Regions from separate parts of the Homo sapiens genome. Here all the other regions are linked to region 1. The links come from fine-mapping of genetic effects on gene expression. A gene starts in region 1. Each other region holds a variant in brackets. All regions are shown on one strand. Distances are between the middles of the regions. Region 1 holds the start of PPCDC (phosphopantothenoylcysteine decarboxylase). Region 2 has its middle 44 kb from the start of C15orf39. Region 3 has its middle 6.9 kb from the start of RPP25. Region 4 has its middle 35 kb from the start of PPCDC.

The links.
Region 2: its variant is fine-mapped to the expression of PPCDC in whole blood (TOPMed, PIP above 0.99).
Region 3: its variant is fine-mapped to the expression of PPCDC in esophagus muscle (GTEx, PIP 0.99).
Region 4: its variant is fine-mapped to the expression of PPCDC in whole blood (TOPMed, PIP above 0.99).

What each region holds. Positions count from the first base shown.
Region 1 is chr15:75,022,313-75,024,996 of GRCh38, forward strand. PPCDC (phosphopantothenoylcysteine decarboxylase) reads left to right here and starts at 1,278. Exons shown (of 6, transcript NM_021823.5): 1 at 1,278-1,314.
Region 2 is chr15:75,156,046-75,158,729 of GRCh38, forward strand. No RefSeq gene overlaps it. Among named protein-coding and RNA genes, the nearest start is that of C15orf39, 44 kb to the right of the region's middle. RefSeq lists enhancers at 449-950, 951-1,450, 2,156-2,656, 2,657-2,684. The variant C/T (reference allele first, on the strand shown) is at 1,589.
Region 3 is chr15:74,948,539-74,951,222 of GRCh38, forward strand. No RefSeq gene overlaps it. Among named protein-coding and RNA genes, the nearest start is that of RPP25, 6.9 kb to the right of the region's middle. RefSeq lists an enhancer at 2,149-2,198. The variant A/C (reference allele first, on the strand shown) is at 1,162.
Region 4 is chr15:75,056,812-75,059,495 of GRCh38, forward strand. No RefSeq gene overlaps it. Among named protein-coding and RNA genes, the nearest start is that of PPCDC, 35 kb to the left of the region's middle. The variant G/A (reference allele first, on the strand shown) is at 1,419.

The DNA of each region.
Region 1 (2,684 bases):
TTTCAAGTCACTCCTTCAAGAAGGCTTTCCTGCCTAGAGGTGTTGCTTCCTCATGGAGGATCTTACCCTGTCATTTTCTGTGTCCCTGTTTGTCTCAAGAACAGGGACGCATCTGATTTATCTCTGTATCCTGTGCACCTAAAATAGAAGAGGCTTGGTAAATATTAAGTGCCACGAGCCCTCTTTTACTAAGGACCTGCCAACATGGGCCCCATTCACACTAATACCATGAAGATAGCCCTTTTCTATACTTCGTCATAAAAAAGTAATACACACACCCGGGCAGCAACTTCCACACAAACAACACATGTGCAAGGAGATCACCATTATTTCCAGCAAAATGCTCCCCAGGGCCGAGCGTGGTGGCTCACTCCTGTAGTCCCAGCACTTTGGGAGGCCAAGGTGGGCGGATTGTTTGAGCCTAGGAGTTTGAGACCAGCCTGGGCAATAGAGTGAGAACCCGTCTCTACAAAAAATACAAACATTAGTCTGGCATGATGGTGCACTCCTGTAGTCCTGGCTACTCCATAGGCTGAGATAGGAGGATGGCTTAAGCCCAAAAGGTGGAGGTTGCAGTGAGTGGAGATAGCACCACTGCGCACTCCAGTCTGGGTGACAGAGCCAGACCCTGTCTCAAAAAAAAAAAAAAAAACAAAAAAAAAAACAGCTCCCCAACAAGATAGCAGGCTACAACATGCATGTGATGAAGCTGATTTGAAGCGCTCAGTGAGAGGTATCTGCATCAAGTTGCAGGAGGAGAAGAGAGAAAGGAGAGATAATCATGTTCCTGAGGTCTCAGCCCTGGATCAGGAAATCATTGAAGTATTAACATATCCTGACATTAAGGAAATGCTGATGTTTTTGGACTTTGGCAGTCTGTCCAACCTGCAGGTCACTCAGCCAACAGTGGGGATGAATTTCAAAACGCCACGTGGAAGCTGTTTGAATCTTTTTGAGATACTGTAATATTTTCAATAAACCTGGGACAACAGCAAAAAAAAAAAAAAAAAAAAAAAGGCCCCAAGCAACAAGCAGTGTGTGTGGGGCTGATAGGAGTGAGGAAAGGAGGTCGGACAGTTATGCCAGCCCCTATCGAGAGTCCCAGCAATACAAAGAACAGGGCCAGGGTTTGCTCCAGGATTTCCCCAGTGGACTACAACTCCCGGAAGGCAGAGAAGTGGACTACAGCTCCCAGAAGGCTGCGCGACATACAGCCAGCCCGGTGCTCTCGTGAGGCGTGCCAGTCAGATTCCGCGGGAGAGCGGCAGAGATACCGCGATATTTGGGAGCGGCCCCGAGACGCGCCTGGCGCGGGTGAGCAGTGGAAGGGGGCTGGGAAGCTGGGTTCTCGCGGCGGCGCGGGAGGGGAGGTTCGGGGAGCTGTGTCCGCGAGCGTGGGTCCACGGCTGTCTGTGTGTGTCCTTATTTTCCCCTGTGTGCCCATGAAGCTCTGTTTGCGACTGTGCGTGGGTAGGCGGCCGTCCATCTGTGCGACCTCACTTTCCCGGCTGTACGGGTGGGGCCGCCTGGAGCAGGAGGGACCCCCGAGCCCTGAGTGGAGGGTTTGCATCTGTACCCGTCCAGCCCGACTTTGTGCTGCTCTGCGATTATTTGTCCAGTGTCGTTTAATCTAGTTTAAATGATGGCCGTGTCAGCTCCTCACACTGAACGCTTACCCGGGCTGCCCAAAGTACAAAGTGTATTTAAAAAGTTGGTAAAATTAAAAAAGGAAAGCCATGGGATGTTGGAAGTAGCCCTAGGCCTGCCAAAAAGTGCTGAGTGCTATTTAAAAATTAGGCCAAATCTTGTCAGAAAAGAACTTCCTGCTGTCCTTGAAGTATTTGGAAGCAGGTGCTAGATGGTGAGCAGGAGAGGTTGCCAAGTTGGGGAAGTGGTGGTTGTCCTGGAGCAGGGGTTTCCACATCTCTCACAGTGGCTGGGAAGTAGCAATTCGCAGTCACTGCCTTTCTAGTAGCCCACGTGTGTGAGTGTGTGTGTTAGATACATTTATCCCTCAGTATCCGCAGGGGATTGCTGTATACTTTTTTTTTTTGAGACAAGGTCTCATTCTGTGACCCAGGCTGGAGTGCAGTGGCAGGAACATGGCTCACTGCAGCCTCGACCTCCTGGGCTCAAGGGATCCTCCTGCCTCAGCCTCCTGTGTAGCTGGAACCACAGGCATAAACAACCATACCCGGCTAATTTTTATTTTATTTCATTTTTGTAGAGACAGGGTCTCACCATGTTGCCCAGGCTGGTCTCAAACTCCTGGCTCAAGCTATCCTCCTTCCTTGGCCTCTCAAAATGCTGGGATTACAGGTGTGAGCCACCACATCACCCTCCTGTATACTCTTTTTTCTTTTCTTTTTTTTTTTTTGAGTCAGGGTCTCACTCTTGTCTCCCAGGCTGGAGTGTAGTGGTGCAATCATAGCTCACTGCATCTTCGAACTCCCTGGGCTCAGATAATCCTCCCACCTCAGCCTCCCAGGTAGCTGGGACTGCAGGCACGTGCCACCACGCCCTCCATATAATTTAAATAATCTCTAGATTACTTATAAAACCTGATACAGTGTAAATGCTATGTAAATAGCTACACACTTTTTTTTTTTTGTGGTACTATTATTATATTTTGAAATGGTCTCTCTCTGTCACCCAGGCTGGAGTGCAGTGGCACAAACATGGCT
Region 2 (2,684 bases), 130 kb after region 1:
TCCTGGAAAACATTGTGAAACCCCGTCTCTACTAAAAATACAAAAATTAGCTGGGCGTGGTGGTGCGCACCTGTAGTCCCAGCTACTCAGGAGGCTGAGGCAGGAGAATGGCTTGAACCCGGGAGGCGGAGCTTGCAGTGAGCCAGGATTGCGCCACTGCACTCCAGCCTGGGTGACAGAGCGAGACTCCATCTCAAAAATAAATAAATAAAATAAAATAAAATAAAATAAAATAAAATAAAATAATTGGTGAGTTTAGAGCAAGCAGGGTCACGCTATGGCTGAGAGAGGGTCACTGGCCTATCTGCAACAGTCCATGCGGGCTGTGGGGTCAGCGGGACCAGTCAAGTGGGCTGTATGTAGCTGTCCCACAGGGAGGCAGTCACCGGGAGATGACTGTCTAAGGTAGATATCTGGATTGAGCACATAGAGGAACTGGGAGGAAGCAGGGAGCTGGAAACAGTGTCAAGGTTGACTGAGCCCTGCTTCTAATGTAAGAAAGTCCAGATTATATTCAAAACGGATGCCAGGGCAACATTAAAGTACAGGAATTCACTACACTCCCTCTGTGCCTGGGTCACTGTTTATGGTCCTCAGGAGGGGGGGCCCTGCTCATTGGCCTCTTCTGGTACTCGGGTGGGGTTGGGGTGGTCTGTAGCCCCATGAGGGCAGGATGGGGGCAAACCAAGTGTAGGGCGAGCATCCCCCTATGTCTTGGGAGGTACTGAGCTAGAGCTACAATGTGTGGATGGGGGGTGCTCCCCAATTAGTCTAGGCTGCGCCTTCTGCATTCCATTCTCTGCATGTCTGGAAGGCCTGAGCTCATGGGACAGACCCCACCCTGGCACCTGGTGGGCGGGGCATTGCTTTCAAGAGGTCACCTTTGTTTGGGAAAGGAAAAAACAAAGACGACATAGCTGGCTGGCGATTCTGAGTCTCACCTCCCAGGGTGTGGAGTGAGCCCAAACTCCTTGCCTCCCACATCTCCCCTGCCACCTTTCCCAGGGCCGGGAAACCCCCAGGAGGATCGAGACTCAGCTTCCACCCAACCCCTAGAAGACCTCTAATGGTCAGGCCTCCAGCCTTGGCTTGCATCCCTCCAGTGATGGGTAGCTCACTGCCCCCCAGAGAGTATTAGGTCATTAAAACAAAAACAAAAACAAAAACAGATTTTGGAGGTGGAACTGAGAGGCAGTGGCCTGGGGAAGCTGGAAGGACTGGATCATGAGCCAGAATTGCTAGGGCAGACACCACACCACTGACCCCACACCTGGAACAGTGTCTGGGGCTATGTCAGCTAATGGGGTAAGGTTCCAGGGAGGCAGATTCCAGCTCAATAAGAAGGGCCAGGCCGGGTGCGGTGGCTCACACCTGTAATCCCAGCACTTTGGGAGGCCAAGGCGGGAGAATCACGAGGTCAGGAGATCAAGACCATCCTGGCTAACATGGTGAAACCCCGTCTCTACTAAAAAAAAAAAAATACAAAAAAAATTAGCTGGGCATAGTGGTGGGCGCCTGTAGTCCCAGCTACTCAGGAGTCTGAGGCAGGAGAATGGCGTGAACCCAGGAGGCAGAGCTTGCAGTGAGC[C/T]GAGATGGCGCCACTGCACTCCAGCCTGGGCAACAGAGCGAGACTCCGTCTCAAAAAACAAAAAACAAAAAAACAAAAACAAGAAGGGCCAGCCATGGTGGCTCACCCCTGTAATCCCAGCACTTTGGGAGGCCAAGGCGGCTGGATCACTTGAGCCCAGGAGTTTGAGACCAGCCTGGACAACATGGTGAAAACCCATCTCTACAAAAAATACAAAAATTAGCTGGGTATGGTGGCGCACACCTGTAGTCCCAGCTGCTTGGGAGGCTGAGGTACGAGAAGTGCTTGAACCCAGGAGGTGGAGGTTGCAGTAAGCTGAGATTACACCACTGCACTGCAGCCTGAGTGACAGAGCAAGATCCTGTCTCAAAAAATAAAAAATGAAAAGAAGAAGGACTACAGACTTCCTCTCAGCAGAGCCAGGGGCCAGTGATAAGGTGTTTTGGGGGAGCTAATGAGTTCTTTGTCACTGGAGGAGTGCAAGTAGAGAGTAGCCCATCATCAGGACTGCCAGGGCTTCCGGAAGGTCCCCAGCTAAAGGGATAGGACCCTACCTACTCTGGAAGGATGACCAGGAAATGTATCCTGTCCCCAAATCCCAGCTGGCCTGTCTGAGATGGCTGGGGGGTGGGGGATGGGGAAGTGGAGCCTGGGGGTCACCTGCGCGTCCCACTTTCAGGAATACCCGCCTCTGGGCATCAGTAGTTTGCCCTTAGCTTCTTCCTCCAGCCACATTTCCATCTCGGCTGGTCCCCTGACTCAACCCCTTCTCACAGCCAGGTGAAGGCAGGACTGGGGTCAGATGCCAACTGTGCCTAGCATTGGATTAGGACACCCCTGTCTCCCTCAGACTCTTCAGGGCTGGACGCTGCCTACCTCTAGTGCCTTTTGGACCCAGGTGGGTGAGGCGGCCCTTCTGAGGGCCGCGGCTTGCTGCTGGGGTAAAGTGGCTGATGTCTGACAATAGACCTTCCCCTCTCGCCTGACCCTCCCAGGGAGAGTGGCTTCCCAGCCAGGCTCAGGCAGGGCCAGGCTGCTTCACAGGCAGTGGGGGTGCGCTCACAGGGAAGTGGGGTTTGGCGACACTGCCCAGGGG
Region 3 (2,684 bases), 74 kb before region 1:
GGCAGGTGCCTGTAATCCCAGCTACTCAGGAGGCTGAGGCAGGAGAATCACCTGAACCTGGGAGTGGAGGTTGCAGTGAACCAAGATCGCGCCATTTTACTCCAGCCTGGGCAACAAAAGCGAAACTCCATCGCAGAAAAAGAAAAGAAAAAAGCATAGAGAAAAAAAATTATTGTCTAACAGTTCTGGAGATTAGAAGTCTGAGATCAAGTGGGGCAGGGCCATGCTCTCTGAAGACTCTAGGGAAGTATCTGTTCCATGCCTTTCTCTTAGCTTCTGTCATTTGCAACCTTCCTTGGCTTGCAGGTGTATAAATCCAACCTCTGCCTCCATATTCACATGGTATTCTTCCCTCTGTGTAATCAATCTCTGTCTCTTCTCTATTTTATAAGGATTCCTCATTGAATTAAATTGTATTGGATTAAGGGCCCATTTTACTTAATATGACCTCATCCTAATTTCTTAATTTAGATCTTTATTAAATCTGCTGAATCTCTTTTCTTTTTCTTTTTTTGAGACAGAATTTCGCTCTTGTTCCCCAGGCTGGAGTGCAATGGCTTGACCTTGGCTCACTGCAACCTCCACCTCCCAGGTTCAAGGGATTCTCCTGCCTCAGCTTCCCGAGTAGCTGGAATTACAGGCATGCACCACCATGCCCGGCTAATTTTGTATTTTTAGTAGAGACAGGGTTTCTCCATGTTGGTTAGGCGGGTCTCGAACTCCCAGCCTCAGGTGATCCACCCGCCTCGGCCTCCCAAAGTGCTAGGATTACAGGCGTGAGCCACCGTGCCCAGCCTTTTTTCCTTTTTTTTTTTCGAGACAGAGTCTCACTGTCACCCAGGCTGGAGTGCAGTAGCACAATCTGGTGGCTCACTGCAACTTCCACCTCCTGGGTTCAAGTCATTCTCCTGCCTTAGCCTCTTGAATAGCTGGGATTACAGGCATAAGTTACCACGCCTGGCCAATTTTTGTATTTTTGAAGAGATGGGGTTTCACAATGTTGGCCAGGCTGGTCTCAAACTCCTGACCTCAGGTGATCCACCTGCCTCGGCCTTCCAAAGTGCTGGGATTGATTACAGGCATGAGCCACCATGCCAAGCCAGAGTTTCCAAATAAGGTATCAGGGATTAGGACTTCAACATGTCTTGGTGGGGGGGCACG[A/C]AATTCAATTCATAGCACCTATAATATTCAGGTGTCAGAAACAACACTGGAATCCTCAAGCTGAATATACAAACCCAATTGCCATGGTGACCCTAGCTTCTCCAAAGGCAGGGGTACCCAAGGGCTCAGATGGGATGAGAAGCTGTGGAAGAGATAGGGGCAGCTTTGGCCATTGGTTGGATGGTTAAGAATTGTAATGTGACATCAGAACAGTTCAGAAACCTGGCTCAGAAAGTCTTTTGTTGGTTTGAAAGAGTGGAGTGATCATGGCTCACTGCAGACTGGACCTCCCAGACTCAAGCAATCCTCCCACCTCAGTCTCCTGAGTAACTGAACTGCAGGCACACACCACCACATCCAACTATTTAATTTTTTTTTTTTTTTTTTTTTTTTTTTTTTGTAGAGATGGTATCTCACTATGTTGCCAGGGCTAGACTCGGAACTCCTGGGCTCAAGTGATCAGCGCTCCTACCTTGGCCTCCCAAAATGCTGAGATTACAGGCATGACCCACTGTGCCTGGCCAGCGGCAAGTCCATTCAATCAACAACTCTCTAAGAGCTTCTCATGTGCCAGGAGCTGGGCAAGGAGCAAGGCAGGCAGGATCCAGTCAATCACGGGCTCATGGGTTAGTAGGGTGACCAATAGCCAAAAGATAAGACTAATGAGGACACACTTATAAACCAGTATCTGTGCTCTGAAAGGAAGAAACTTGATGCCTTTGAGGAGACCCTCCTGTGGCTGCATTTTCCTCCTCTTTCATTCTCCTTCCCTTCCTTCCTTTCCTTTGCCTTTCTAACTACCATTCTCTTGGAGACCTGCGAGTGTTTCAACATCTCAGTGAAATAGAGGGACGAGAGCATCACCTAGTGGTCAGTGTGGGCATAGCAATGACCAAAACTGAACTAATCAGCTTGGGAGATGAAGGGCAAGGGGTGGTGGGGGTAGGCAGTGTGTGTGTCTGGCCCAGGTATGCACCTAACAGTGAAGTGAATACACTCTGGCAGATTCATGGCAATGGACAACAGCTCTTAAAGATTTACCAATTTGAAGCTGGGTACTCCCACCTCCCACAAAAAATAATCACTCCATTGTTTGGTCCTGACATAGCACGTCCCCTGGGGTGCCAGAAAGGCAGACCAAGTCCTGGCCAGGCAGGGTTAATGCTCAAGGAGAACCCTCCCATTTCCTGGCTGTAATAGCAGTGAAATCCTACCTAGCCTGGGTAGCTCTCACATCTGCTCCCATCTCCCTCCGCATTGCCGATGTCTCATCTCTTATCCCTGCATTGTCTCTAGGGTCTAATCAGACCCCCTTCCAATCCACTCCCACTTACACAGGTGTCAGAGGGATCCTTCTCAAACACCAGTCAGATCTGGGCTCAGAGCACTCCCTGGCTCCCAGTGGCTCCCTCACTTCCCTGTGACCTGGCTCCCACCGGCTCCCTCACTTCCCTGTGACCTGGCTCCCACCTAGCACTCTAGTTCACCTGCATCTCTACACGTTACCCTCTGCCATCTCCTCT
Region 4 (2,684 bases), 34 kb after region 1:
CAAGGTGGGCAGATCACTTAAGGTCAGGAGTTCAAGACCAGCCTGGCCAACATGGTGAAACCCTGTCTCTACTAAAAATACAAAATTAGCCAGGTGTGGTGGTGCATGCCTGTAATCCCAGCTACTCAGGAGGCTGAGGCAGGAGAATTGCTTGAACCGGGGAGGAAGAGGTTGCAGTGAGCTGAGATCGTACCACTGCACTCCGGCCTGGGCAGTAGAATGAGACTCCATCTCAAAAAACAAAACAAAACAAAAACAATCTGTTCTGTGGTTCCTGGGCACTTTGTGGTGTGGGATTAGAAAAACAGATTGGTGGTGGCTCACGCCTGTAATCCCAGCACTTTGGGAGACCAAGGCGGGTGGATCACAAGGTCAGGAGTTTGAGACCAGCCTGGCCAACATGGCAAAACCCTGTCTCTACTTAAAAAATACGAAAATTAGCTGGGTGGTGGCAGGCGCCTGTAATCCCAGCTACTCGGGAGGCTGAGGCAGGAGAATCACTTGAACCTGGGAGGCAGAGGTTACAGTGAACCGAGATCGTGCCATTGCACTCCAACCTGGATGACAAGAGCAAGACTCCGTCTCAAACAAAAAAAAAAAAAGAAAAACAGATTGAGATACAGAACTGGGAAGATGGGAACAAATGGAGGAGTGAAGGAATCTTTTTGTTTTTTTTTTTTTGAGCCAGAGTCTCGCTCTGTCGCCCAGGCTGGAGTGCAGGGGCGCGATCTCGGCTCACTGCAAGCTCCGCCTCCCGGGTTCACACCATTCTCCTGTCTCAGCCTCCTAAGTAGCTGGGACTACAGGCACCCACCACCACGCCCAGCTAATTTTTTGTATTTTTAGTAGAGATGGCATTTCACCGTGTTAACCAGGATGGTCTCGATTTCCTGACCTTGTGATCTGCCCACCTCAGCCTCTCAAAGTGCTGGGATTACAGGCGTGAGCCACCGCGCCTGGCCAAGGTTTTTTTTTTTTTTTTTTGAGATGGAATCTTGCTCTGTCGCCAGGCTGGAGTGCAGTGGCGCAATCTCAGCTCACTGCAGCAATTGTGATTGAGGTTCTTTTTAAAGCCCTTTGCAATGTGTGATTCTCTGAGTGCAGCTGAGCAGGACTGAACTGTGTGGAGCCCTAGATAAGACTTGGGTTATGGGTACGTGTTACATGTTCTCCATATTGCCAAGTGTTTCTTTAATCTCATTTCACCCTCCTCACATAACAGCTTCACGATGGAGTCAATTAGCATATGTAGCTGTTTCATAGACAAGAAACTGAGGGCCGCACAGCCAGTGCAGTGTGCTAGGGTTTTCTCTTTCTGCCCTACAGCTACCTGCAAACAGGCTCCTGCACAGGACTTCTACCCTTATTTGCATTTACCTCCTTGGGGTCAGTTGAAACACCCCTTCCACCATACATCA[G/A]CATCCCCAGATGCCTGCCCTTTCAGTCCCAACTGGACAGCTCCTTCATTACCTTTTTCTGCTCATGGCTTCCTTCCTTCATGTATTGTGGTTTCTAGGGCAGGATGAAAATCCTAAGTGTCACGCAACTGCCTCTGAGCAAAGAAATCAACCCCAATAACTGACAAGTTGTTTACACTGAGAGCTTCCTGGTGGAACCAAATATTCTACAATATTTAAGCCAGGTTTGGTACCCCTTGCGGCAAGGCAATGGGAATGATCAGGCCAGAAGAACTACCAGTTGTCTCATAGCAAAGGAATGTGGGGAGTGGGTGGGTGTGAGGACAAGAGGCAGATATGTGAGCTTCAGGGCTTTTGGAGGACATGCAGCTAATCCAGGTGGAATCTGGGAGCATGTGTCGTTCCCTTGCTGCAATGGGCTCATTTCATGGTGGCTTTATCTGCTGAGATTACATGGTGATGCTTTGCCTGCTAGCCTAGACAGCAGGTCCTTAGGGACTGGAGGCCCAGCAGACTCCCTTTCAGGCCTCTGGATTCCTGGAAGAGGAAGGAGTGTTCAAAGGTGAATTAAAAGGTGCCTTCCATCTGTGTAGGCAAAACAATGTTACCAGCCATAGCGATGGACTTGGAAGCAGCCAACATGAGTTGAACATGAACACATGGATGCTGAAGATCCTTTCTTTCTCTCTTTAAATTTTCTTTTTTTTTTGAGATGGAGTCTCGCTCTGTCGCCCAGGCTGGAGTGCAGTGGCGCTATCTTGGCTCACTGCTAGCTCCGCCTTCTGGGTTCATGCCATTCTCCTGCCTCAGCCTCCCGAAGTAGCTGGACTACAGACACCGGCCGCCACGCCTGGCTAATTTTTGTTGTATTTTTAGTAGAGACGGGGTTTCACCGTGTTAGCCAGGATGGTCTCGATCTCCTGACCTCGTGATCCACCCGCCTCGGCCTCCCAAAGTGCTGGGATTACAGGTGTGAGCCACTGCACCCGGCCCTCTCTTTAAAATTAAAAAAAAGAAAGTTTTTTAACTTTAACTAGGTCCTGACCAGACATAAAATTTTTTTAATTAAAAAATTTTTTTGGCCAGGTGTGGTGGCTCACACCTATAATCCCAGTACTTTGGGAGGCCAAGGCAGATGAATCACAAGGTCAGGCGTTCAAGACCCACCTGGCCAAGACGGCGAAACCCCGTCTCTACTAAAAATAAAAAATTAGCTGGGCGTGGTGGCGAGTGCCTGTAATCCCAGCTGCTCAGGAGGCTGAGGCA